6 separate regions of the Homo sapiens genome follow, and regions 1, 3, 4, 5 and 6 are each linked to region 2. The links come from fine-mapping of genetic effects on gene expression. A gene starts in region 2. Each other region holds a variant in brackets. All regions are shown on one strand. Distances are between the middles of the regions.

Region 1 (4,089 bases), 29 kb before region 2:
ACTGTTCTTCAAAGTGATGGTATCAACAGTACTATCAAAATATATGAAAAGTGCCTTTTCTCCTTAGATCCTTATTATCTATTTTAAAAAATATTTACCAATCTGGGAATCAAAAAATGATGTTTCAGTGTTTTTTTTTTAATTTGCACTGATTTAATTATTTGTTTCCAACTTTATTTTTTACTATCTGTATGTTGTCTTTGGAGAAATATCTACCTGTCCATATTTTTTATTTTTTAATAGGGTTAGCTTTTTTATATTATTTGAGGCTTTTAATCTATTATGAATACTAAGACTTTTCAACTTGTGTTGCAAATATCCTCTCTAACTCTTCATTTATGAATGCTGGCTTTCAACATATGAATATGGTTAAATTAGTCACAATTTCCCATTATAATTTCTGGGTTTCAAGATAGTTTTTAAACTAATTCCAAGCTTAATAAATCAATTGAGAGAACACACCCACAAAGGATACAATTAACCCCGTGTTTTTACCTCTTTATGTGCACTCTGAGCTTACTTTATTCTTTTACATCAATGTGTATATGATCTCTCAGAGTGCTAAGGCACTCAAAGAACCCAGCAAAACACCCAGTGTAGATTTTCAATAAATGTTCATTTATTTCATTCCTCCTGAGTCCCATTAGTTTAGAGACAACAGACACATAATTCTTTTTAAAATATTTTCCAACAGAATTCCAATTGTGTTCAGGGTGACAACGTGCCCGGCCAAAACTACATTTCCCAGCCTTGTCTCCAGCTACGGGTGGCAATGTGACACAGTTTTGGTTAATGACATGTAAGCGGAAGTCACTGAACTGAGCTTCCAGGAAGCTCTTTGAAAGAGAACAGGCACAGCTGGTACGTGCCTTTTGCCATCTGCCCTTCTCCTCCTTCCTGCCTGGAAAGCAGATGCAATGCTGACTGGAGAGCAGCCATCGTGAGGCTTCAAAGGGACAAGATCACTAAGGATGGCTGAATGGAAAGGCAGCAGCACCATGGGTCTCTGATAGCATCTCTGAGCCACTGACCAACCCTAGAATGCCCACCTCTGGACTTCTTGGTATAAAAGGAAAATAACCGTTTACTTGTTTAAGACATTGTGAATGAGTCAGGTTTTCTGTTCGTTGCAGCAAAATCTAGAATCTAAACTATATATCAGGGTTCACTCAACATCTTCATATAAATTTTAAAACAACCCTTTCATTTTCATAGCTTGAGATAATCCCTTGAAGAACAGCTATGCTGGTTTGAAAGGCAAGTTCTCTATTCACAGATACACTTTTTTTTTTTTTTTTTTTTTTTTGGAGACCGAGTCTCGCACTGTCGCCCAGGCTGGGGTGCAGTGGCACGATCTTGGCTCACTGCAACCTCTGCCTCCCAGGTTCAAGCGATTCTCCTGCCTCAGCCTCCCAAGTAGTTGGGATTACAGGCGCCCACCACCAGGCCCAGCTAATTTTTTGTATTTTTAGTAGAAACGGGGTTTCACTATGTTAGCCAGGCTGGTCTCAAACTCCTGACCTCATGATCCACTCGCCTCAGCCTCCCAAAGTGCTGGGATTACAGGCATGATTACATGGGACGCCTGGCCTTATTCACAGACATACTTAATTTTAAAAGGAGAAATCAAATCATTAAACACTTCAAGTACAAAATTCAAGAACACCCTTAAGGAGAAGTCAGTAATCAGCAACATATGGTGTCACCTGTGCTAACTTGGTGTTAAATTACCCTTATCAGCACACCACATGGCTTGTTTTAGCTGTGACATAAAATTTAGGCATCTAAGACTTTTCCACGAAAAAAAAAATCACAGCTAAGAAGGAATTCTTAACAATTATACAAGACTGAGTATGTATTTTTGTCATTAATCCATTCCCAAGAATTTGGGCTCACTTGTAGCTTGAAATGAAGAATTAAGAAAATATTACAGAATGTGCCCAGGGAAAGACCCACCACTGTCCAAAATCATGTTCTTCAAAGTATTTCACTAGATAAGGAAGGAAATGCACAAGCTGATGGAACTATTTAACCACTCTACTACTGGAAAGAACAATCTCAAAATGTAGTCCTGTTTTAGTCCTCACTTTAGCTAGCCAGCCTCTCAGAACCGAAGAATGAGCAAAAGCCCCGCAAGAGGAGCAGATTGAGCCCTCGACAGAGGTCCTCTCCAGGATGGCAGTCATTTCAGCTTGGGAAAGAAGGGGAGATGGGGGGCATATGCTGTAAGCTCCAGGAGACTGGAGCTTTGTCATCTTTGCAGCTTCTTTTTTTTTATTTTTTAGAGACAGGGTCTCATTATGTCACCCAGGCTGGAGTGC[A/G]GTGGCTATGCACAGGCATGATGATCACACACTACAGCCTCAAACTCCTGGGCTTAAGTGATCCTCCCACCTCAGCCTTCCGGGTAGCTGGGACTACAGGCATGCACCACCGCACATGGCTGCAGCTTCTTCATGATCAGCCACCACGGCCTCCACCAAGAATAATTTTCTTTTCAAAAACACCTAACCCTCCCCCACCAAAGTGTCTTTCACATGGCATCAGATATTTTTAAATTGAATTTTTCAACTATGAATAAACTCCCTTACTCACATTGAACACTGTCCTGATTTGCCTCTGTAATAAGAAGAAATATACCACATGCTACTGATCACAATCTCTGCACCCTCTACCTGTAAGGGGGAGGAAGGTGGAGAAAGAATAGAGTAGAAAACAGAGAAGAAAGTCAACAAAGAAGGACAATGCACAGAACATAATGTATATGGTCAACCATAAACTTTCCACATTAACAAAGAACTATACAACTGCCAAAGCCAGACATAAATCCCCTATTCCCAACTAGTCCAAAGCATTGGTTAGTTATTATTTTAATACTTCCTTTTACAAATGGACTATATCACTTCTCAGAGTTTAATACACTTTTTGGCATATGTATCTACAAGCATAGACAGAGCTTAACAAACTTTTTGAAATGTGTACCTATAAAACAGTAAAAAAAATTTAATTGTAAAAAGACTTCTAAGTGTTAATTTGAAACACAATTTGAAAGTGTTCAAAGTTCTAATTTATGTCAGCCAAGTTAAGAAAAGTTGGTAACAAGATATCAGTAAGAATTCCAAAGCAGTATCTGTCATAGGTAATCAATCACCAAATACTTAGGAACTGTCTAAAATGGATTTCATACATAAATACCTAAATTTGGTAATCCAGTTCCCTCCTAAACAGGGAGGCAGGGCTGCTTTATAGAGAAGCTACACAGTGGAGCAGGCCATAGACTAGAAATCAGTATGTGTCTTAATTCTCCTAGCTTCACAAGTGAATTCACCATCTAATGATGATCATTCCATGTAAAGCTCTGTAATTCTCAGTTTCCTTGCCTGTAAAAGGTAATAATGATATCAATATGAATTAGGATGCTCTCAACTAGAATAAGGAAAATGTATTGTCTGGTAAGAAGAAGTCAAGCAGTAGGGCAGCTCCAGGGTTGGTTCATTTGACGGCTGGCTCTTTCCATATTTCTTTTCTGCCATATTCAGCCAGTCAACTTATTTTCAGGCTACCTTTCCTTATGTGCGCATGATTGTAGCTCCAAGTAGTCACATTCAGTCATGACAACAGGCAGCAGAAAAACAGGGATCATTCCTGTGTATTTCTTCCCAGAAGGGAGTGAACTTTCCTTTCCCAGAGGTATCTCCTTCCTTATGACCAGCAGACTTCCCTGCTCCTATCACTGGCCAGAACTGGGTCTCATGCCTAATCCTAAACCAAACCCCTGGCAAAGGGAATGAATTTACCATAACAGACTTGGAGTCATCAGGATTCAGTCCTGAGTCGTATGAGGTAGGGGTAAATACCTAAACAAAATTGAGGTTCGACCAGCAAGAAAGAATGAAGCAGACAACTGAACAGATAACCAACAGTGTTGTGAACCCCTTACTTCACAGTACCATAGTGACAATCAAATGATAAAGCAAGAAAAAACTGCAAAGTATAAAATGCTTTATAGATCCAATATATTATTATTCATTTAAGATTTGTTGTATGCTGAGGCAAAATCTCAACGATAAAATAAATTCATTGAAAACAAAG
Region 2 (4,089 bases):
AAATAATTTCTATTATTTACATTGTACACTAGGAAAGTGAAAATTAGGCTAAGACATAGCTGAACATTGCATTTCTTTCATCCTATAATCAAATGAAATTTATTCTTCAGTTTCATTAATATACACTACTTCAGCGTCTCCAAACACTTGAAAATATACCCCAGTAAAGCTGTTTCCTTCAAGGTAAATGTGGTGAAATGGGAATCAGAAGTTTCAATACTATAATAACACCTTAATATTAAAGGAGCTTAGGATGGTCTGAAGGTAGTTTTATTATCTCAATTGTTCACAGTCAGTTACAGATTGAACTCCTTGTTCTACTCTCTTCCCCTTCTCACTACCGTACTTAACTAGTCTTAAAAAAATAAATAAAATATTAAAGCAGCTTAGGTTTAACTACCCTTCTCCTTTTCTTGATTCCATGAATTTGCTTATGAATTTTCCACAGCAGTTAGAAATTGATCAGTTCCATCTCCAGTAGTTACAGACTGGGAAAGTGACATCTACCAATATATTCCTTCAATATATTTTATGGAATATATCCCATAAAAACAATACTGTGCCAAAGAATTTCTAGGTCCAGAAGCAGTCTTTTTAATAAAATTTTGCCTTTATGGAAAAAATCAAACTTTCTCATAAGGCTTCTCTGTGAATTTCAAAAGGGTCCTACATCCATGTACTCCATTTCAGCCATGAATTTCTTCTGTTCATTGCAGAATGCTTGCCACTGGTGTATGTTTACAATGTTTTCCATTGGATCTGCACAGGAAATTAATCAGGCGCCATTTGTATTGAGCATGATGTAGACAAGAACATGTCATTAATATACTCATCCTAGTTATACTGAAGAACCTAAGACATGAACAAACCTATCGAGCTCAATTGTTGAGGCCACACACTATGCTAAGTGCGGAAATGACTATAAAGACAGCAATGAGCACTTTGTTGCTCAGCCTCTCAATTTTGAGTCACCAAGAAAGGATACTTTACCTCTGCATGATTTGAACTTATATTAAGAAAACCTACTTACTGTAAAATCCCCGTGTTATGTACCTCTACAGTGTTCTTTTGTAAGAATGCTTATATAGATTTTACCAAAGAAACAATTTCAGATAAATTATCATAATACTATCTTCAAGCAACATTACTCTAGAAATTAGCTTCATCAGCTTTATTCCTGCATATTCAAGGAAATTCAGTTAAAGCGAAAACGCAAAACAGAGAGAGTATTTGAAGGCAGAACAACTAGTTCCACTTCTGCATATTAAGCAAAATTAAGCAAAAATAAAGGAAACAGGCAAAGGGAAGGAACTCAAGAGCTATTTGCAGCAGTGATCCGTTACAAGTTCTACGCGCTTCTCCTCGAGCTCCAAGAGATAAGGAGGGGAAAGGAAAGAAGGCACCACGCAGAAGCCTAAACTTACTCTTGGTACAACTTAGAATATTCACTGAATTCAGCCTAAGATGTCTGGGTTATCTGGATTCAGTAGGAATGTCTGGGAAGAAGGAGTGGCATTTGCTTTCTCCGTTTGAAACCCTGGGAGCTGTACGAGAGTACCCCAAACCCCTTGGTTATCTTGCAGAGGCGGCTCAGGGCATCGTTCCCCAAGCACACACCTGCAAAGCCGGGCGGCTCCTCCCCTCTTTCCCTCCTGTCCTCAGGGATGGACCAAAGTCCCTCCAGCGCACCGTTAGCCCGAGGGCCACCCGGCTCCCGCAGGCACTACCCAGCCCGGGGTGAAGCCGGAGCGCTCGCCGCCGTCCCGGCTCCGCTTCCCGGAGCCACACAGCGGAGGCGGCGCGCAGCTGAACACCGGCACCACCAGGATGCGCATTACAATAAAACTTGGGGGAGCAAGTCTACACTCGCGCCGACGTGAAGGCACAGCCCCTGACGCGGGCTCGAGGGCCGTCGGCCCGTCCCGCCCCTCCTCGCGGCCGAATGGCAGTAGTCCATACCTGTCCTCGGAGACGCTGATGACGCCCTCCTCTTTGGGCACGATCACGGCCATATTCACCACCTCCTGGGACCCCTCCATCCGCTGCAGCAGGATCGGCTTGCGGGTCAGAGGCTTGGGCTGGATCTCCGCCGCCATCGGAGGAGGGGGCGCGCCTGGGGCGCCGCCGCCAACCGCGCCGCGGGGCCGGGCTGAGGAGACTGCTGGAGCACGGACACAGGTTGAGACAGAGACTCTGGCTGGCCGGAGCGGAACGCCGGAAACCGGCGAGCATAGCCTGGCCGCCTCTCTCGGGAACGACTCCGCGCTCCCTGCTTCAGGCACCAAAACCGCCACGACCTGGGATGCAAGCCGGCGCCACTACAAGAGGAGGGGGCGGAGCGCCGGGGGGCGGAGCCTGTGTGGGCGGGGCCTGCCGCAGGGGGTAGCCGCTGGTGGGCGCGAGGGCGGCTCCACTTCCGGGAGGGTGGTGAAGGAGGAGGGGAAACCTGGAGCAGGAGGCGGGGATCTGGTATCCCAATGCGCGTGCGTCAGTCCCGCAAGCCCATTTTCACCCCTCCCCTCCGCGACTCCCCGGGCGCTGCAGCACCACTAGGACGCATGCGCTTTCCGTTCCTCGCGGTCTTCTCTCTGCCTTACACACCCAAGGGTTAGGCTCCTCCCTCTTTAACCTCCCGTGAACGCGCGTATACACACCCCTGGGGACGCGCTTGCCAGACGCCACGCCCCTTCGAAATTCCCTGAAAAGAGGGCGGAGGTGGGGCGGGGAAAGGAGCGCCTCAGCAAGACCGGAAAGAGAAGAGGCCTGCAGGAAGGAAAGCCGCCCAACTCGTTGGGACGTGACTTGGCATGCGCGCGGGCTACCTGGCCTAGCGGTCTTAACAATGAAGCGCGGCGGGAGGCCGCTTACTGCTCCCAACATGCACCAGGCCCAGGCTGCCGGAGGGAACCCAGTGGCCTCCTGGGAGTCGTAGTTTCTTGGAGCCTCCGCCCCCTTGTCCTGGAATGACCTATCGCCCACTTTCTGCGCTATGGGCCTGAGGAGCTCAGCGGCCTCCAGGGCCATTGGCCAAGTCAGGACCCAGACTTGCCTCTATGGGAACTGAGGGGCAGCCCCCAGCTGAGTAGGACGTCACCACTCCTAGGGTCAGACTGATGCTCGGAATAGTGGCACGGAAGGGACATGAAAAGGAGAGAATCTTTCATACAGACATCTTCAAGGGAGCTCAGAGAACATATGGGGTGTCTATCCCCTCGTTTTCTTAGATGGCTAAATTACACAGCCAAGGTTACTTTAGTGCAAAGTTAGGGCTAAACAACCCCTCCTTCCCTCCAGACTTGAACCCAGGCCCCTAGTGCTGGCTTCTTTCCATTTCCCCAGCAATCCAGCCTTTTTAGCTTGCTCCAGACACAACGGACAGAGTTACTGTAGTTACTGACTGAATGTTAGGTGCCTACCAGAAGGCCTGGCATGTGGGGTTGATCGTGAAGACTAAGCTCTGCTTTTTTATCTTGCCCAAATTCCTATCTAAGGGGTCTGGGGAGTCATGGCCTACAAAAACCATAAATTCTCATCAGATGGGTTTTGACCATGTAGGTCATGACTTACTTTCCAGTCTGACTCTGGCGTAACAAGGAAGAAAATCAAAATGTTTTACCCCAAATTATATTTCCTTGCCATGCCTTAAAATTGCCCTGCAAAGTCTCTTGTGGGAAAAATCCACATTCTATATCCCCTTTCCCCTTTGTTTTCCTTCCTTCCTTCCTACACCCAGGAGATAACCAACTAAGAGCCAGGCACCGTTTTAGGTCTGGTAAGGAACATTTTACAACCTGCTGTCTCTAAAGGCTGCTATCTAAAAGATTCCTCTGCACAATAAAACCTGGTCTCCACAATCCTTTACCTTAACCTGAACATTCCTTTCCGTTGATCCCAGGTCTTCAGATAAACTCAACCAATTGTCAACCAAAAAACGTTTAAATTTACCTATAGCCTTGAAGCCCCCGCTTTAAGTGGTCCCACTTTTCTGAACCAAACCAATGTATTTCTTAAATGTATTTGATTGATGTCTCATGCCTTCTTAAGATATATAAAACTCAGCTGTACCCCGACCACCTTGGGCACATGTTC
Region 3 (4,089 bases), 210 kb before region 2:
GACTAGACTTTCTGAGTCATGAAAATGTGGAGTTGCTTTGTCTCATTTGTCTCAGGTGAGAAAACAATATGTTTTAAGATGAGTAGAAATAAATTCGACTACAGCTTTGAGTTTTATAGCTTGATTAATGGGGAAACTCAGGCAGGGCACGGAACTTCTCTGCTTTGTCAAAGGAGTTGTGGCTCTTGCTCAGATCCTCGTCTGTAGGTTCAATACTTAGGTGCCCTCTGCCTTGGGTTAGTGATAAGTCACGTATGTCCACTGATGCTCAGAGAGGATGCCGTTGCATTCATTGGATGCTAAGAATGCAAGTTTGGACTTAGGTACTGGGTACAGAGAAAAAGGTTTAAACAGCCAAGATCCATTAGTCGACTACCATGCCTATGACTGTGTGTAATACCATAAGGAGAAACGGCACATTAGACAGGGTCCCTTACTCATGGAGTTCTAAGCCTGCTGGGGAGGTGGCTGTGTCCAGTGATAACCATGATACAAGGCAGAGATTGAAAAGTGTCATGAGCAAGGACTAAGGGTCACAGCAGAAGTTGTCATCTTATTTATGATGTGCCTGAGATACTGTCTGAAGAGCAAACTTTTGACCAAAAAAAAAAAAAGATCAGCAGCAGGAAACCCTGACATATCCATGCAAAGGTAAATTATGTAGTCATTAAAACGAATAGGGTGGATTCATATGTAACAAAATCATCTCCAAGACCTCTTGTAAGTCCTACAACTCAATAGCAAAACAAACAAACAACGACGTAACTTATAACCGGATTTGAAAATGGTCTAAAGACTTGAATAGACATTTCTCCAAAGAAGATACACAAATGGCCAACACAAGCTGGGCACGGTGGCTCATGCCCGTAATCCCAGAACTTTGGGAGGCCAAGGCAGACAGATCACTTGAGGTCAGGAGTTCAAGACCAGCCTGGCCAACATGATGAAACACCGTCTCTCCTAAAAATATAAAAATTAGCTGAGCATGGTGGCATGCACCTCTAGTCCCAGCTACTTGGGAGGCTGAGGCAGGAGAATCACTTGAACCTGGGAGGCGGAGGTTGCAGTGAGCCAAAATCATGCCACTGCACTCTAGCCTGGGCGACAGAGTGCAGTGGCACTCTTTTTCTCAAGAAAAAACAAACAAAAAACAAATGGCCAACACATATATGAAAAAATACTTTCAATGTCAGTAGTCGTCAGGGAAATGCAAATCAAAACTAGAGTGAAATATCACCTCACACCTCTCAGGATGCTATTGCTAAAAAAACAAAAAACAAAAAATGTTTGTTAGGTTATGGAGAAATTGGAACCCTTGCACACCATTTGTGGAAATGCAAAATGGTGCAGCCTCTATGGAAAACAGTATGGAGGTTCCTCAAAAAATTCAAAATAGAGCTACCATCTGACCCAGCAATTGCACTTCTGGGTACTTATCCAAGGGAATTGAAATCAGGATCCTGAAGAGCCATTAGCACCTTCACGTCCATTGCAGCATTATTCACAATAGCCAAGATGTGGAAACAACTTAAATGTCCATCGACAGAAGAATGGACAAAGAAAATGTGGTACATACCTACACACATTGGAATATCATTCAGCCTTAAAAGGAAAGAAATCCTGCAACGACATGGATGAACCTGGAGGAGCTAACCCAAGTTCAATAAGCCAGGCACAGAAAGACAAAGACTATTCGATTTCACTTATGTGAGGTAGCCATAGTACTCAGAATTCATAGAACCAAAGAGTGGAATGGTGGTTGTCAGGGGCTGGGGGAAAGGAGAAATGTGGAGTTACTATCAAAGGGCACAAAGTTTCAGTTAGGCAAGGTGAATAAACTCTAGAGGTGCACTGTACAACATTGTACCTAGTCAGCATGCTGGAAATTTTGTTAAGAGGGTAGATCTCATATTAAGTATCCTTATCACAATAAAATAAAAAAGTAAAAACTGTTTTTACCACCAAAAACTAAAAGACATATTGTTAAGTGAAAAACACGGATGTAGAACAATGCATAGTCTGATCCTATTTGTGTGGTGTATGTATATATAAAATATATATCTTAAAATATATGTATTGTATATATAGTATATGCTTAAAATATTTCTGGATGATTCACAAAAAACTGAACAATGGTTTATTTTTGAGGAGTGG[G/T]ACTGGTATTTTCCGTTTTATATCATTTCAAAGTATTTGCTTTTTAAAAACCGTATACTTTTTTAAAATTAAAAGTGCTAGTTTATATCTTTTTAAAAAGGGTTTTTTTTTTTTTTGCTTTCTAATTTAGAACATTTTTCTGCACATTGTGGACTTGTCTGATCCCAAGCAAATCTGGAAATTTGTTGAAAATTTCAAGCAGGAACATAAACTCCATGTTCTGGTGAGCTTTGTAAACATAAGTGGAGAATAAATTCATGTTGGCCCATTGTTTCCGTCTGTGGATGTGGACGGATATGTATGTTTGCCTGTCTTTATGGAAGAATCTTAGTAAGACTCTCTTATGCTTGGGCCTGTTCATGGAATCAAGTTTACTCATTGGATTTAAGAGGAGACGCATGTGGTTAGATTAGTGGGGAAAGGAAGGGGCCATCCACTGGGTAGGTGTTGTGGGAGGATAGATATGTTCCATGTTTTATAAAATGATGATTTGTATATAAATTTTTCTCAATTCTGTAGATTTGGGGATTGGTGTGTTGAAATTAGAAGCTCTTTTTGTCCAAAAGAATACCTCCTGCAGACAGGCAAATCTTTTAGTAACATAATTAGCACAAAACTCCATGGAGAGCCTGGGTAGACTCAGATAGAAAGAGTCCCAGTGTGCTCTTCCCAGATACTCTACTTGGAGCTAAGTTGCTTTTCTATCCGAAGAGTTTCTGATGTGCTCTGAAACGTTGTTCCAGAGTCTGGAATTGTGCTGTCCAGTGTGGCTGTGAAGCATTTGAAATGTAGCTAGTCCAAACTGAGATGTGGTGTAAGTGTATAAATTAGCAGGTTTCAAGGCCTGAAAAAAATTATCTATGCCATCTCATTAATATTCTATATTGATTACATGTTAAAATGATGCTATTTTGGATATATTTGGTTAAATATATTATTAAATTAATTTTACCAGTTTCTTACTACCTTTTTAATGTGGCTACTAGAAATCTTAAGATTAGATATTTCTATTGGACCGTTCTGGACTAGATGAATTTCCAGAGCACTCTCTCATGAATTAGGTTGCCTGGCCAAGCTGTCTCACTTGGCGATCTTTGCACAGTTCTGTGGCTGAATCCTCTGCACAAGTGGTATTTTCCTGCAAAGGGTTTGGAGTAAAGAATCAGTTGAGCAAATTGTCATTGTCACTTGAAAGTTGAAAAAGAGCTGGGGGTGGGGTAGTGGAGGTGTGGGGATGGAAATAGGTCTTTTGGCCCTATTTTTCTTTATTTTGAAATGAGAACTATAAATTTTAGATCAATAATGCAGGTTGCATGGTCAATAAAAGAGAGCTCACAGAAGATGGACTTGAAAAAAACTTTGCTGCCAATACTCTGGGTAAGTACAAGAAGTTTTCTTATTTGTTTTTAGCAAAATAAACATAGAATGTACCATAGAAGGGTAAAAAAAAATTGACCAACTTTTTTGGTTCTTGGTCCTGGGCCTGATGACGTTTGCTTTAAGTTTATTCTGAATTGTACTTATTTTTCTTCATAAAACACTTTCTCTTTTCATGTTTCTTATAATAGGTGTTGGTGCCAGAAATACTTAGTATTGAAGTGTTTTTTTTCCTAGGAAGCGCTAGGCTGTTTATAGACATTGTTTTGAAGAGGAGAGCAAGTTCAGCTTAAGTGTTGAGTGCAAGTCTAAAAACTGCAACCAAAGGAACTTCCAGCCAGGGCTGAGGAAGGTGCAACCAGTGGGCAAGAAGATGGACCAAGAAGCGCATTGGCTAGAGCACAGATACCTGGGCTCTGGTTGCTACTCTGTAATAGCAGAGTGAAGTCATTTTATATCAGGCCAGTGGCTCTCCAAGTGGGGTTCCCAGACCAGCAGCCTCAGCATCACCTGGGAACTTGATAGACATGCACATTCTTAGATTCCCCACCCAGATCT
Region 4 (4,089 bases), 180 kb before region 2:
AGCTCACACCTCTCTGCGGTTCCCTCTCACTTTTAGATCGGAAGCCAGTTTCTACACACTTGCCTCTCGCTACAGCGTCCTCCTCACCGGCCGAAGAGGAGAAACTCATTGAAATCCTGGAACAGCTGGCTCAGACATTTAAATAGGCCAACCCAGACACAGTGCGGTACCAGAATTGCCTTAGAAGATACCAGAAGGTGCGGTCTAGGGACCAGTGAATAAGAAGACCCCACTTCAACTTCCCCTCGAAGACGTTGTGCCTCACAGCGAGGCCTACAAGGGATGGGAACTTTTATTTCAAAATAAATACTACCGAGGCTGTGATCAGGCTCACCTTGAACTCCTGCAGCAGGTTCTTTTCTTATTTTAAGTCTCATTTATTCGAGAATGGTTTTCTAAAGAATTCGAAGTTTGAGATGAACCATCATTTCAGTCTTAGGGGACGCAGGGGTGGGGGCAGCAGGAATGCCCCCCTGTGAACTCCACTTCCCCTCCCTTTCTCAGCTCCTCCAGTGTCAGAGGCTGGCGCTGTGCACCCCCCCCCCCCCCCCGCCCCAGGAGAGGGCTGGACACTGCCTTTACTGTGCATGGTCCCAGAAGCACAGCATAACCAAGGGACGATGCATATTTACACAAACAATTTAATGAGGCCTAGTTTACATTTGCTTAAGATTAGGAGTGGCTTCAGTAATGCATCTGGCATTCTGGTACTACACTTTGATAAAACCTCTAATTTACACCATTTTACCTCTTAGTGACTCCAGGAAAAGTTGTAATAAAACCAATGAGCAGATTTAGAATACATCTACATACATTCTTGGTGTCCATGGTGGAATAAACGTAACTCATCCCCCATAGCAGAGGAAAACCCAGACGGCTGCAGCTTCTCAGTGGTCCTGGAGACACTCTGATCCAGGGCTCATCATCAGCCAAGGACCACAAGGAAGGGATTTTTCTGGGTGTGCCAGCCTGAAACATCAGCGTCTTTCTGACAAAAGGAGGCGCTATCAAGCAAGCACCAGCTCCATTTAACTGCATGCCTCCTTTTCTGCAGGAGGATGATGGGCCTCAGCAATGCTGGGTGTGGGCGACGCTGTGCTGGCAGCACCAGGACGGGGCAACCCAGCCACCCCCTCAACGGTGATTCCATAGCATGCAGGTCACTTGGTGCCTTTGCACCTATTTTTCTTCTCCATAAAATGAACCTCACAAGTTTTAAATGAGGCTTTCCCTGGCAGTGTTTGCCCCGAAGTCATTTCTCCTCACTGGAAAAGTTTACTAAGCACAAGAAAAAGCTGACTTACATGATGAAGGAAAAGGGCTCCATGGCTTGAGCCCGTGTGCTGTGCTTAGACTGTGGTGAACAGGGCTCATCTTCACCTCCAAACAGCAGCTCTCCCTGGCATCTAGACAGCAGGTGGAGTGGTCTGGAACCTCCCCCTCCCACCAACTGGACAGAACCCACAGGGCTAAACAGCACAGCAAGGTTGTCGGTGTGTGCGTGGCCACATGTAACCGTGATGGGACCATAGCTGCAGAAAGGTTTTCACAGAGATTTATTTTAAACCGTGGCGGCAACTCCGCATTGAGAGTTGTACATTGGTAATGGCTACACGTATATTTTGGTTAGAGGAAAGCACAGTGGGAAAGTGAGCGGAGTAAAAACATTCACAATATTCAGCAGCATTTGATTGGGGGCCTGGATACAGATGTTTCAATATCCTAGGAAATTCTTGCTCATTACCACCTAATCACATTCAGGAAGTCAATGTCAGGACTGGCAGGGAGTGTGGCAAATGCCGGAGGGGTCCAGCTAGACCACACGGGAGAAATCTGTTCCAATGTCAGGCTTATTACATTCTCAGCCTGACCCCCTGAAGAATCTCCTCACTTTAAAAAAAGAAAGAAAAAGATATCCATACGGTAATATGCCCACTGCAGCCAGGTCCAGACTTGGGCTGCAGTCCGGTGGATGTAGAGAATGGAAGATCCGTGTCCCTGGTTAGAAGTAGAGC[G/A]GTGGGCAGGCACTAATGTGGGGCCAGCACCTTCCCTGTTGTCCAGTTAGTAACGGTTTTTGTACATTTCATATAAAGATTTCCTTTTGCAAAATGACAGCACCTTGAAAAACAAAGTCATTTAAAAAGCAAGGCAAATGGTGTAAGACACAAATCCATAAGAGTACAATGGTTACAAGTGACGCTAGGGTTTTGGCCATACTTCATAGTGGCATATACTACTGACGTAAGGCTGCCATCCACTAAAATGATAAAAAGTGTATATGTGAAACATTTTTCAAATCATTTTCCCTTTTTTTGTGAGTGACAGCTCACCTTCTCATGCATCCCCGAGAACCAAGGGAAAAAAGAATCATAAGTAACAAGGTCAGATTCTCAATCTAACTTTTCAGCCAACCTGCAATTCTTGACACTTCCAAGAAAGTCAGATACTCTTCTTGACTTGTAAAGGTAAACATTTTGAGGTATCTATTTTTAATGAGATGGTACCATGATTAATTTCCACCCTTACCATCTTTAAAAAGAATTTTTTTTGCCCTACAAACTCATGAAAAGAAACTTCACCATCTTTTCTCAAAACCAAACCTAGCAGGCTCTAGATGGAAAAAGTCCAGAAAGCAACTCACTTGATATGATGGAAGACAACAAAGGCATGTGGTGATAGGCTCTCCGTTATCCAAGGGAAGCCAGCAATATGCGGGCAGGTCACTGGTGATGGGCTAGGCATGTCCAATAATAAACGAGACTCAGGGAATCAGAGAATCACAGGATTGGAAGGGACTTTAAGAATGATGATCAAATTCATCCCTCAAGCCTTTAATCTCCCTTTCAACATCTCTGGCAAAGGCTCTACACTGTGTGTTAAAAAAATTCCCTGGTATGGGACATGCAAGGAAGACATCCCATTCCAATTTAGGACCGATCTAATTTTTAGACACTGCTTTCATGTGTTAAACCTAAGTAGGCTTCTTGGTGGAAAGGAGATAATGCTTAAAGGCAAAAATACAAACCACAACCCTGGAGGGTTGACGTGGTTCTTGGTTAAGAAACTGAGCTGAAGTTTAAACAGGAATGCAGATGTTTCTGGACTAAGTTTTGGACATAGATCTTTGGGTCCTACAAGGAAAAGGCAAATGATGTGATAGCAAAGACAGGCGCTGCCATGCCCCTGCACGGTGTTCCTGCCTCCACAGGGCCAGGTCTCCCAGACAGACCTGTACCTGAATTGACGAAACTCTCTGCCTTCCTGTTGCAAGTGCCCCTGTAAGGAGGACCTCCCACATTGTACTGGAATCATCTGTGACTTGCAAGAGCAGGAAGTGGAGGGCAGCAGCTGCCTGTGTCTGCACCCAAACACTCGGCACCGCCTGTCCGTGCAACGCCACACTTGACTAGAACAATCCTCTCCTGCCACAGGGCCAGGGCTTTCCTTTTCCACAGTGGAGCAGCTGAGCCCAACACACCTTTGGCGTTAGTCTGGGAGTCCTTCCTGGTTGCGGGCCGTGCACTGATAGTCTCCACCTCCTCCTCTCAGACTCCAGTGAGAGGCTGTGCACCCAAAGATCCAGAATTAGTTACCCTGAGTCACCTTCAGTTAACAGTTCTAGGGATTTCCAAAGAAAAAGAAACTGATACTATTATAATATAAACTAATAGTAGCATTGGCTGCAGGAGGAGCCTCTGGGGAAACCCCTCGTGGTGAGCTGTGTGCTGCTTTCCTCTGAGGCCAGGGAGCAGCAGCATCTGATAGTGACGAGCTCAATTCTGGGATGGCAGCTGAGCCACTTGGCTGTTCTCCGGCAGCTCCAGCCCACTTGTGATCCCTGGACACACCACACTGACTCCAGCTCTCAGGCCTTTGTTTGTTTATGCTGTTTCTGAAGCCTGGAAAGTCATTTCCATTTTTCCCCCTTATGACTCACTCCTCATCCTTTAACACTGAGCTCAAAGTCCCTTTCCTCTGTGAAGCCCCTCCTGCCACACCTGCTGGGTTAGTGGCACCCTGGCATGCCTCTATCATAACCACATTGCACTGAAAAGACCCATTTACTCACTGTGTGACCTCTGCCCAGCC
Region 5 (4,089 bases), 320 kb before region 2:
TCTCCCTGCACGAACTGCCTTCAGCCTGACATTTCTTCTCCTGCTTAGGGCCGTTCTCTGTTGACTGCTTCGTGTTGTCTGCTGTTTCTCTTAGCTCAATGCTTCTCAACGAGGGTGCTTTTGACCTCCCCCAGGAGCATTTGGTAATGTCCACAGATATTTTACACAGTAACTACTGGAGGTGTGCTACTGGCGTCAAGTGGTTGGAGGGCAGGGATGCTGTTAAACACCCCACAGCACACAGAACAGACTCCCACAGCAATTATCTATTCCAAAATGTCAGTACTAATGAGGTTAAGAAACACTACTAATGATGATGTTCCCCTACCTGGTAAATAAAATTCAAGGTTTTCAGCCTCCACATCAGTACAGAATGAATGTTTCTTAATTGAAATGCTTGGAGCCAGAAGTGTTTTAGATTTAGGATTTTGGAATATTTGCATTATATTTGCTGGTTGAGCATTCCCAAACTGAAAATCTAAAATCTAAAATGCTCCAATGAGCATTTCCTTTGAGCATGACCTTTGAGCATCATATTGATACTCAAAAAGTTGCAGAATTTTGAGCATTTCAGATTTTTGGATTGCTCAACCTGTACTTTTCACAATATCTTGAAAACGGACCATGCTTATCTTTTCTCTTTTGATCTAGAGCCTCCTTCTTTTCCACGTCCATACCATGAATTCCTATTCAAGCCCAGAGAAAATTATTCATTACTACTATGCATTAGCTGCTGAAGGCCAGGTGATGTTTTCCCAGATCTGACTCATCATGATCATGATCATCAATTATCATTATCATCATCATCAACAACAATTACCTTAGGGTCATCATAAGAATTGCATATAAGCTAGCCACCAAGCAGTCATCAGTCATCTGCCTTTAGCCCAGTGCTACCTGAATTCAGTTTCTGTCATCATGTATTTCTTAATTTCAAAATAGGCAGCAGCACTAAATCTGGTCCATGGGCTCATTAACATCATCATCATCATCATCATTAATATTACCATCATTGTCATCATCACTGCAAAGCAGGCAACAAGCAGTCATTAAGCTCATGCTGATTCTGATGCTGATGGTGAATGAGAAGCAGCACTGCAGAAAACCACCTCATGCCTAGCATCCCAGGGCCACAGGTGCTGTGTGTTAGATTGAGTGTTCACTTGTCCAGTGTGAATGTATTTTTGTTAAGAGTTATTGGCCTTTGAGTTTCTGGTGACCAGATGCTTCTTTCTAAACACACACACACACACACACACACACACACGTGGAAGACTGTTGGAGAAACCCAAATGGTGTCATAGGAGGCAGGTGTGAGAAGACACTTTGGTTGCACAACCAGGTATGATTCTGCCAGAGCAGAAGACCCTATATGGTTCTCTTTTCTGCCCCAGCACTGCCTCATTATGGCTATGATAGGTTTATTGAAGCTAAAGTTTGGGCATTCTGGGGCAGCCTTTGCCCCACACCCACACGAGTCTTTTTCATTTTTCGGTTGCCACTGAAGTCTGGAAATAGCACTCTGCCTTTTCCTCTGGCCCCATAGAAACCGGGACTTCTGGGTGTTTAACTTAGCATCTGACTCCATTAGATGCTCAGGGTCTCCTGCACTTACACCTAGGGATAGGAAAAAGGGGTGTTCTGGGGAGAGTAGGGGGAGCAGTTTGCCCTCTATTTGGTGGCTTTCCTTGTACAGTGGAGAGAGCAGCCAGAACCTGAAGTGACAACTGAGACATCGTCATCTGACGTAGAGTCTCTCTTCCCTCCCTGACCTCGTTGGTGTGCCACCTCTCCCTCCCTCCCATTTCCAACAGCATGCTTAGGAATGAGTTATGAAGTGTCTTATTGGAAACCAAGACCTCAATGGCAATGAAGGGAAGACACTATAGTTAGTTATTATTGATCATCTCTACCTGCACTTTCTATATTTGCAAGCACTTTTTGGGACTTAGTGAGTAATAAATAAAGTGTCTCTAGATCACCTTGCTGCTTCCCACTGCTGCTGCCTCGTGCATCCAGTTCTAGTTGTGTACCTCCTGGATACACACACTAAGGAGGTGAGACCTTCAAAAGAAATGCAAAATATTTCCACAATTGTGTTTGTGTACAAACTGACCTGTCAAAACCAAAACTATATTTAGGTACTAGATTATAATCAACACCCCCAGTGGATGCTATTGGTGCCTTGCCCAGGGCCCCTTTACCAGGCGGATGCACTCATCTCCCAGCTTTGAGTATTGCTCACCGCAGCCACCTGCTTCCTGAAGAATT[G/T]CCCTTGCAGAGCAGAAGCCACCATGCTAGGAAGTTATCCACTCCCTCGGCATCACATAGCCAATAACCAATTGCTGTCAGGGCTGTGTTAGTTATCTGTTTCTCAAAATAAATTACTCCAAAACTTAGTGCCTTAAACGGACAATGAATATTTGTTATTTCACAGTCTGTGTGTGTCAGAGATTTGGGAGCAGCTTAGCAGAATGGTTCCCGTTTGGGTTTCTCAGGAGGTTGCCCACAGACTGTCCATCAGGGCTGCAAGTGACCTGCAGGCTTGACTGAGGCAGGTGGCCTTGCTTCTGGGGTGGCTCACTGGCCTGGCTGGCAAGGTGGGGCTGGTTGTTGGCAGAATGCTCAGTCCCTCTAACCATGGGACTCTCCCAAGTTCAGCTTCTAGAGTAGCTATGATAACATACTTTCTATAAAACCTATATTCTAAAATGTATTTAATAAAATAACTTTCCTCTAATTTTTAAATCTGCAACATTGCAGCAGTTCATTTTAGACATTGAGAGGCTGAACATTTTAGATTCTGGTTCTAAAGGCATGTGGGTGCCCTCAACATCAATAGCAGCAGCTAATAATTCCCAAAGCTTTTCCAGGCGCCAGGCCGTGAGAAGGGCAAAATGTGTTGTGATTCTGTTGAAGTAATGCCTACCACCCCTTCAGTCCCACACTGAAAATGTAACAAGGCAACTGGGAAACTGTCTTCAACATCAGTGCTTTTTTTCATTTTGCTTCTCTTGATTTTTACATCTTACAAAACTGAGAATCCACCTATATTTATTCTTTCATCCAATGCACGTTGGCTTCTGACCTCACCCCTGAAATGGCTTCTCCAGAGGTCTGCAGTAACCCCCCTGATACCACATCCCAAGTGATTCTTTTCAGTTTTTTTATTACATGACCTTTCCATGGAGCTTGACCCCAGTGGATAACTTCCCAAGCTCCTCCTCCTTGAAACTCTCCTCTCTTGGATTTTGAGCTTGGATGACAGAGTGAGAAAGGCCTGGCGTTTTTGCTCTGGACTGGGTAACCCAATGAAGCTATGTGGATTTTCTGCACAAATTTGGAATGTAAACACACCCAATGGGGCTTCTGCCCAGAGGATTGTAGCTAGGCTGGGCTGGAGGTAGGGAAAGCAGGGAGGAGGCTACGTGTTTGTGGGAGGAGGCTGATAAAGCCTGAACTCGGGGAGGCAGTGAGCCTTAGGAGAGCAGGTAGATTCTAGATACTTAGGAGAGCCACTGTCACAGAGCTTTGTAAAGGGACTTGGGATGGAGTGGGCACTGGGGGAGGGCAGAAAGGAAAATAGAGACACTGAAGATGTGTCCAGGCTTCTCCGGGGGTAGTTAGTAATGCCATTGACCCAAGTCAACTGATGTATTTCTGTGTTTTTGTTGGATTCTTCTTCATTTTTGACTTTCCTTGGCTATATGAATTTCCAGAAGTACCTGTTCCAGGGGCAACTGACAACTGAGAGGGGTGTGAGGCATGGGAGGGCGGGTGGGGCACAGGCAGCTCCACCGGGCGCCACCCCTCTAGCAGGAGTGGTTTCTTTATATGTACCAGGGATATTTCTGCATTGAACTCTAGACCATGTGGAACTTGGCTTTTTAGCAGGTCAAATGCCAGGCACAACTTTCTAGCTGGACCAGATGCAGCCACACTCAGGAACCGTGCTTCATTAAAGTGTGTGTGGACCCAGGTTCTCTTCCTTCACAATTTTGTGAGTACAGATGAGGTTGTGTGGACATTAACATCACAAATATGAGAAGGCTGGGCCTCACTTGAAAAAAAAAGAAAAGTTTTATTGAG
Region 6 (4,089 bases), 150 kb before region 2:
AGATACCTTTAGACTTCCCTGACCGATATATACCTACACATCTAAGAACACTACACCATGGGGCCGGGTGCGGTAGCTCACGCCTGTAATCCCAGCACTTTGGGAGGCCAAGGCGGGCTGATCACGAGGTCAGGAGTTTGAGACCAGCCTGGCCAATATGATGAAACCCCATCTCTACTAAAAATACAAAAATTAGCTGGGCGTGGTGGCGCGCACCTGTAGTTCCAGCTACTTGGGAGGCTGAGGCAGAAGAATCGCTTGAACCCAGGAGGCAGGGGTTGCAGTGAGCAGAGATCACGCCACTGCACTCCAGCCTGGGCAACAGAGTGAGACTCCGTCTCCAAACAAAACAAAACAAAAAACACTGCACCATGAGGAGCCAGCTCTCTGCCTTCTTTGTTGGTGACTATGGGATGAGGATGGTTTATGGGGATAGAAGAGAAAGTTTGGATATGGTATTATAAGTGTACAGGCTCTGGAACCAGAATCTAGTCTTAAATCCCAGCCCTATCTTTATTAGGTATAGGACCTTGGACAAGTTACTTAACGTTTCTGTGCCTCAGAAGTCTCATCTGTAAAACAGGGATGATAATAGTACCTAACCCACAGTATTGTTGAGATTAATTGGGTTAATATATATAAACACACACAACAGTGCCTAGCACATGGGAAGCACCACTCAACAAATGTCAGCTATGATTACAGTACAGGAGACCTCATCTATACAATCTCTGTGACAGTGTCCTTTGTTGAGTCAGCCTTAAGGCCAGTCAGCTTATTCTATGCTATCCCAGCCATCATGAGATCAATTAAGGTCTTAAAAACAAGACCAATCTCTAGCTTTGCCACATTATATCAGGCCAGAAGGGGTCAGGGCTAGGAAGGGGAGTTCTTGGCAACACAGAGAGTTAGGAAGGCAAATAGATAAACTGGTTAAAGCAAGTCAGGGTATATTCATCAGACACTCCCAGGGCCCAAAGTGGAAGAGATAGAAGGAAAAGCTGCAAGACAAGAAAAAGTTTAGGATGGTGTAGGGAGTAAATAACTCTGGGGTCCCATGCCTGCTCTATATAAATGTCCTAACAATGAGGTCATTTGAAAGTTGGCCTATAAATGATAAATCACAGCATTCATTTCAAATCAGTTCAACAAGCATGTATTGAGCCTCTTCTATGTGGAGGAACTGTGCTAGGCTCAGCAGATACAATGAAATAAGACTTACATTCTACCTACCAAAAATGTACAATGATAAGATGATGGATTACTTTTGAGAACAGAAGAGCATGCACGTTATGTTTGGTCGAGCCATTCTCTTACGGGATATGTGACTGCTTCCCCTGTCTGGAGTGCCTGTCCTGCCTTTTATCACCCAAGTAACTTTTTCTCCCTCCAGGAAGCCTTCCCAACACCTTCAATCCAGGTGAAGTTCCAGTCTCTGTGCATATCTCTATTGCTACACAGACCCCACTATATTGAACTTGGTTGGATTATAAGTCTGTCCCCACCGCAGACTTTGGGTTATGTATCTTTGTATTCCAGCACAGCACACAGTGACTGGTATGCAGGAGGTGCTCAGTAGATGTTTACTCAACTGATCTGCTGCATTGAGTGGCAGAGAGAAATAGGAGGACAATAAGCAAGAGGCATCCAGGACAGCCTGGGATGGCGGCTGGTGGGAAGGCTGTGCAAGACATCAGGATCAGAGATGCAGTGGGGAGAGCTGCTGATGGAAACGGCCTCTCCCTTCTGAGGGAATTTTTCCTGCATCTCTCTGCACACAGGGCTTCCTGATGAACTGTATAGTTCTTTCTCCTAACACTTCTGGCAGCAGAGGAAGTCAACCACCTTCAGCTACCCTGCATTCCAGGCAGTGCAGACACATATCTCATACCCCAACCCACACTGGGGGCA[G/A]AGCCCAGGGCTTCAATGCTTGTGGTTTTCCAGTGTTTCTATTTTAAATGACAAAAAGCATTTCTTCCATTTCATTTGACTTCATTTCAAGTTAATCCATCTTTCTGGTCCCTTTCAGTGTTTCATTTTATGCTTCTCCCTTCCTTTGACCTCCCTAATATGACCTACAGAATAATTTTTAAATAAAAATGGTTTAATTCTTACAAATAAAGTTTTCTAGTTATTCTTTAGTGGGCACAGGTCTTCTATTAAGGATGATGAAGAAGTTCTGGAAATGGATAGAGGCAATGGCTGTACAACACTGTGAATGTACTTTATGTCATTGACTTGTGCATTACTTGTACACTTAGAAGGTTGAAACGGTAAAGTTCAGGTTACACGTATTTTATCAAAATAAAAAAATCGCCAAAATATTTTTAAAATAAAAGTTTTCATAATTATACAATGTATACTACTATATACTCTCATAAATATAACTGTTAGTGGTTGGCTAATATCTCCCACGTATGTATCTTATTTCAACTATTTTTAGATTTTTCTCAACTTTTAAGTATGAATTTTTCTAAGATGAATATTTTTACACATACAATTTTGTTCAGGTTTCCAATTAGTTAGAAGAGAATCCCAAATGTAGAAATGAATCAGAGAGTATAAAGATTTTTAGAAATTTAATATATATTACCAAAATGCTTAGGGAACTAATTTTTTTTTGAGACTTTTACCACATACCTTGCAAAAGTGAATGACCACGTGGAGTGTTACAAAATCAGGGTTGGAAACTGCTGGGTCTGCCTTTCCCAGAGTGTGATCTGGTAACTTAGCAGAGGGAGTGTCACACCACACCCTCAAGGGTAATATGTGCAGGCCAACATGAGGCTAAAGGAGACTAAGAGCCTGTTGAATAAAATATCTGACCTTTTGATTGCTGCATTTTGCTCTAGAGTGAAGTGACAAGGGTTTTTGTCAAGCTAAAGGCCCTCCATCTCTAGAGTATACCTTCTTCCTGAGATCCATAACTCTTCACCCAGCTGTCTCTTTGCTGCCACCCCAGGGAAGTGTTCAGTTCAAGCACAGTGCTATTGTCTCCTAGACCTGCTCTCCCAGCAGTACTCCAGGTTTCAGGAAATGCCATCACCAGCCAATACATGCTCTAGACAGAAGCCTTGGGAGTCACTGCTACTCCATGCAGTTACCAAATGCGGCTGACCCCTGTTCTCCAAACAGATCTTAAATCTCCTCCACTTGTCTCCACACACACTGCTGTCCCCCAGTCCAAACAAAGTCAGCTTTCCAAGGGACTCCAGCAGTAGCCTCCTAAACAGTCTCCCTCCATCCATTCTGTTCCCAGTCAATCTACCACCTACTGCTGCCACAGTGGCTTATTAAAATGCAAACCATGTCACTACTCTGTTTAAACTTCATCACTGGTTTCCCGCCAACCTGAGAATAATGCCTGAAGCTCCTACCACTACTTGTAAGGTCACTTGCCTTTGTGTGGTTGCTAACATTTTCCCACTCTAGGCTGCTGTTCTGCAGGTCTGGAATGTTCCCACCACCTACATAACTCCTTTTTCTCCTTAAGGTGCTATTTAAACACCACTTCTGGCTGGGCACAGTGGCTCACGCCTGTAATCCCAGCACTTTGGGAGGCTGAAGTGGGCGGATCACCTGAAGTCAGGAGTTCAAGACCAGCCTGACCAACATAGTGAAACCCTATCTTTACTAAAAATAAAAAAACTTTGATGGGTGTGGTGGCGTGCACCTGTAATCCCAGCTACTCAGGAGGCTGAGGCAGGAGAATTGCTTGAGCCCAAGAGATGGAGGTTGCAGTGAGCTGAGATCGTGCCACTACACTCCAGCCTGGGTGACAGAGCAAGACTCTGTCTCAAAACAAAAACAAAAACACACTTATTTGGGAAGCCTCCCTTTAATTATCCGCAAGAGGAGTGGACCTTTTATTATTTGCTTCCAAAGAAGCCTCTGTGCACATCAGGGCTCCACGGCACCTGCTACTCATAATGTTTGGATGAATTCTCTGTAACTACTGGTCTAATGCATGCATTCCATGCTGGCTGGAAGATGGATAAGGGCAAAGATTATGCTTGTTTTATTCACCCACATTTCCTGGCACCATCATATACATAGAGAGCGGATGACTGACTATGGATGACAATTCAC

Which allele goes with the higher level. Alleles are on the strand shown, and positions count from the first base shown. SD is a standard deviation of normalised expression in the study named. Not every link is listed here.
For the expression in pancreas of the gene that starts at base 2,322 in region 2, allele T in region 3 goes with a lower level than allele G (small effect, 0.28 SD a copy in GTEx).
In carriers of allele A in region 6, the expression in tibial nerve of the gene that starts at base 2,322 in region 2 tends to be higher than with G alone (moderate effect, 0.65 SD a copy in GTEx).

The links. PIP is the estimated chance that this variant, and not a neighbour inherited with it, causes the effect. A credible set is the group of variants that fine-mapping cannot tell apart.
Region 1: its variant is the best candidate, but not a certain one, in a credible set for the expression of WDFY2 in whole blood (TOPMed, PIP 0.52).
Region 3: its variant is the best candidate, but not a certain one, in a credible set for the expression of WDFY2 in pancreas (GTEx, PIP 0.54).
Region 4: its variant is the best candidate, but not a certain one, in a credible set for the expression of WDFY2 in whole blood (TOPMed, PIP 0.53).
Region 5: its variant is the best candidate, but not a certain one, in a credible set for the expression of WDFY2 in whole blood (INTERVAL, PIP 0.53).
Region 6: its variant is the best candidate, but not a certain one, in a credible set for the expression of WDFY2 in tibial nerve (GTEx, PIP 0.62).

What each region holds. Positions count from the first base shown.
Region 1 is chr13:51,611,404-51,615,492 of GRCh38, reverse strand. The region is part of intron 1 of WDFY2 (WD repeat and FYVE domain containing 2); the gene reads right to left. Among named protein-coding and RNA genes, the nearest start is that of WDFY2, 29 kb to the right of the region's middle. RefSeq lists enhancers at 928-1,017, 1,048-1,107. The variant A/G (reference allele first, on the strand shown) is at 2,322.
Region 2 is chr13:51,582,695-51,586,783 of GRCh38, reverse strand. It overlaps WDFY2 (WD repeat and FYVE domain containing 2), which reads right to left and starts at 2,322. Exons shown (of 12, transcript NM_052950.4): 1 at 1,960-2,322. The coding sequence starts at 2,096. It also overlaps the pseudogene RNY1P6. RefSeq lists a silencer at 2,102-2,471 and enhancers at 2,612-2,891, 2,550-3,070.
Region 3 is chr13:51,789,453-51,793,541 of GRCh38, reverse strand. DHRS12 (dehydrogenase/reductase 12) reads left to right here. Exons shown (of 9, transcript NM_001377533.1): 3 at 2,285-2,377; 4 at 3,450-3,531. Among named protein-coding and RNA genes, the nearest start is that of DHRS12, 13 kb to the left of the region's middle. The variant G/T (reference allele first, on the strand shown) is at 2,155.
Region 4 is chr13:51,764,244-51,768,332 of GRCh38, reverse strand. WDFY2 (WD repeat and FYVE domain containing 2) reads right to left here. Exons shown (of 12, transcript NM_052950.4): 12 at 624-4,089. It overlaps DHRS12 (dehydrogenase/reductase 12), which reads left to right. Exons shown (of 9, transcript NM_001377533.1): 9 at 37-340. The coding sequence ends at 146. Among named protein-coding and RNA genes, the nearest start is that of DHRS12, 38 kb to the left of the region's middle. RefSeq lists an enhancer at 3,493-3,812. The variant G/A (reference allele first, on the strand shown) is at 2,016.
Region 5 is chr13:51,901,121-51,905,209 of GRCh38, reverse strand. It overlaps a transcript of TMEM272 not described here. Among named protein-coding and RNA genes, the nearest start is that of CCDC70, 41 kb to the right of the region's middle. The variant G/T (reference allele first, on the strand shown) is at 2,272.
Region 6 is chr13:51,732,763-51,736,851 of GRCh38, reverse strand. The region is part of intron 6 of WDFY2 (WD repeat and FYVE domain containing 2); the gene reads right to left. The region is part of intron 1 of LOC124903177 (a long non-coding RNA gene); the gene reads left to right. Among named protein-coding and RNA genes, the nearest start is that of DHRS12, 69 kb to the left of the region's middle. The variant G/A (reference allele first, on the strand shown) is at 1,912.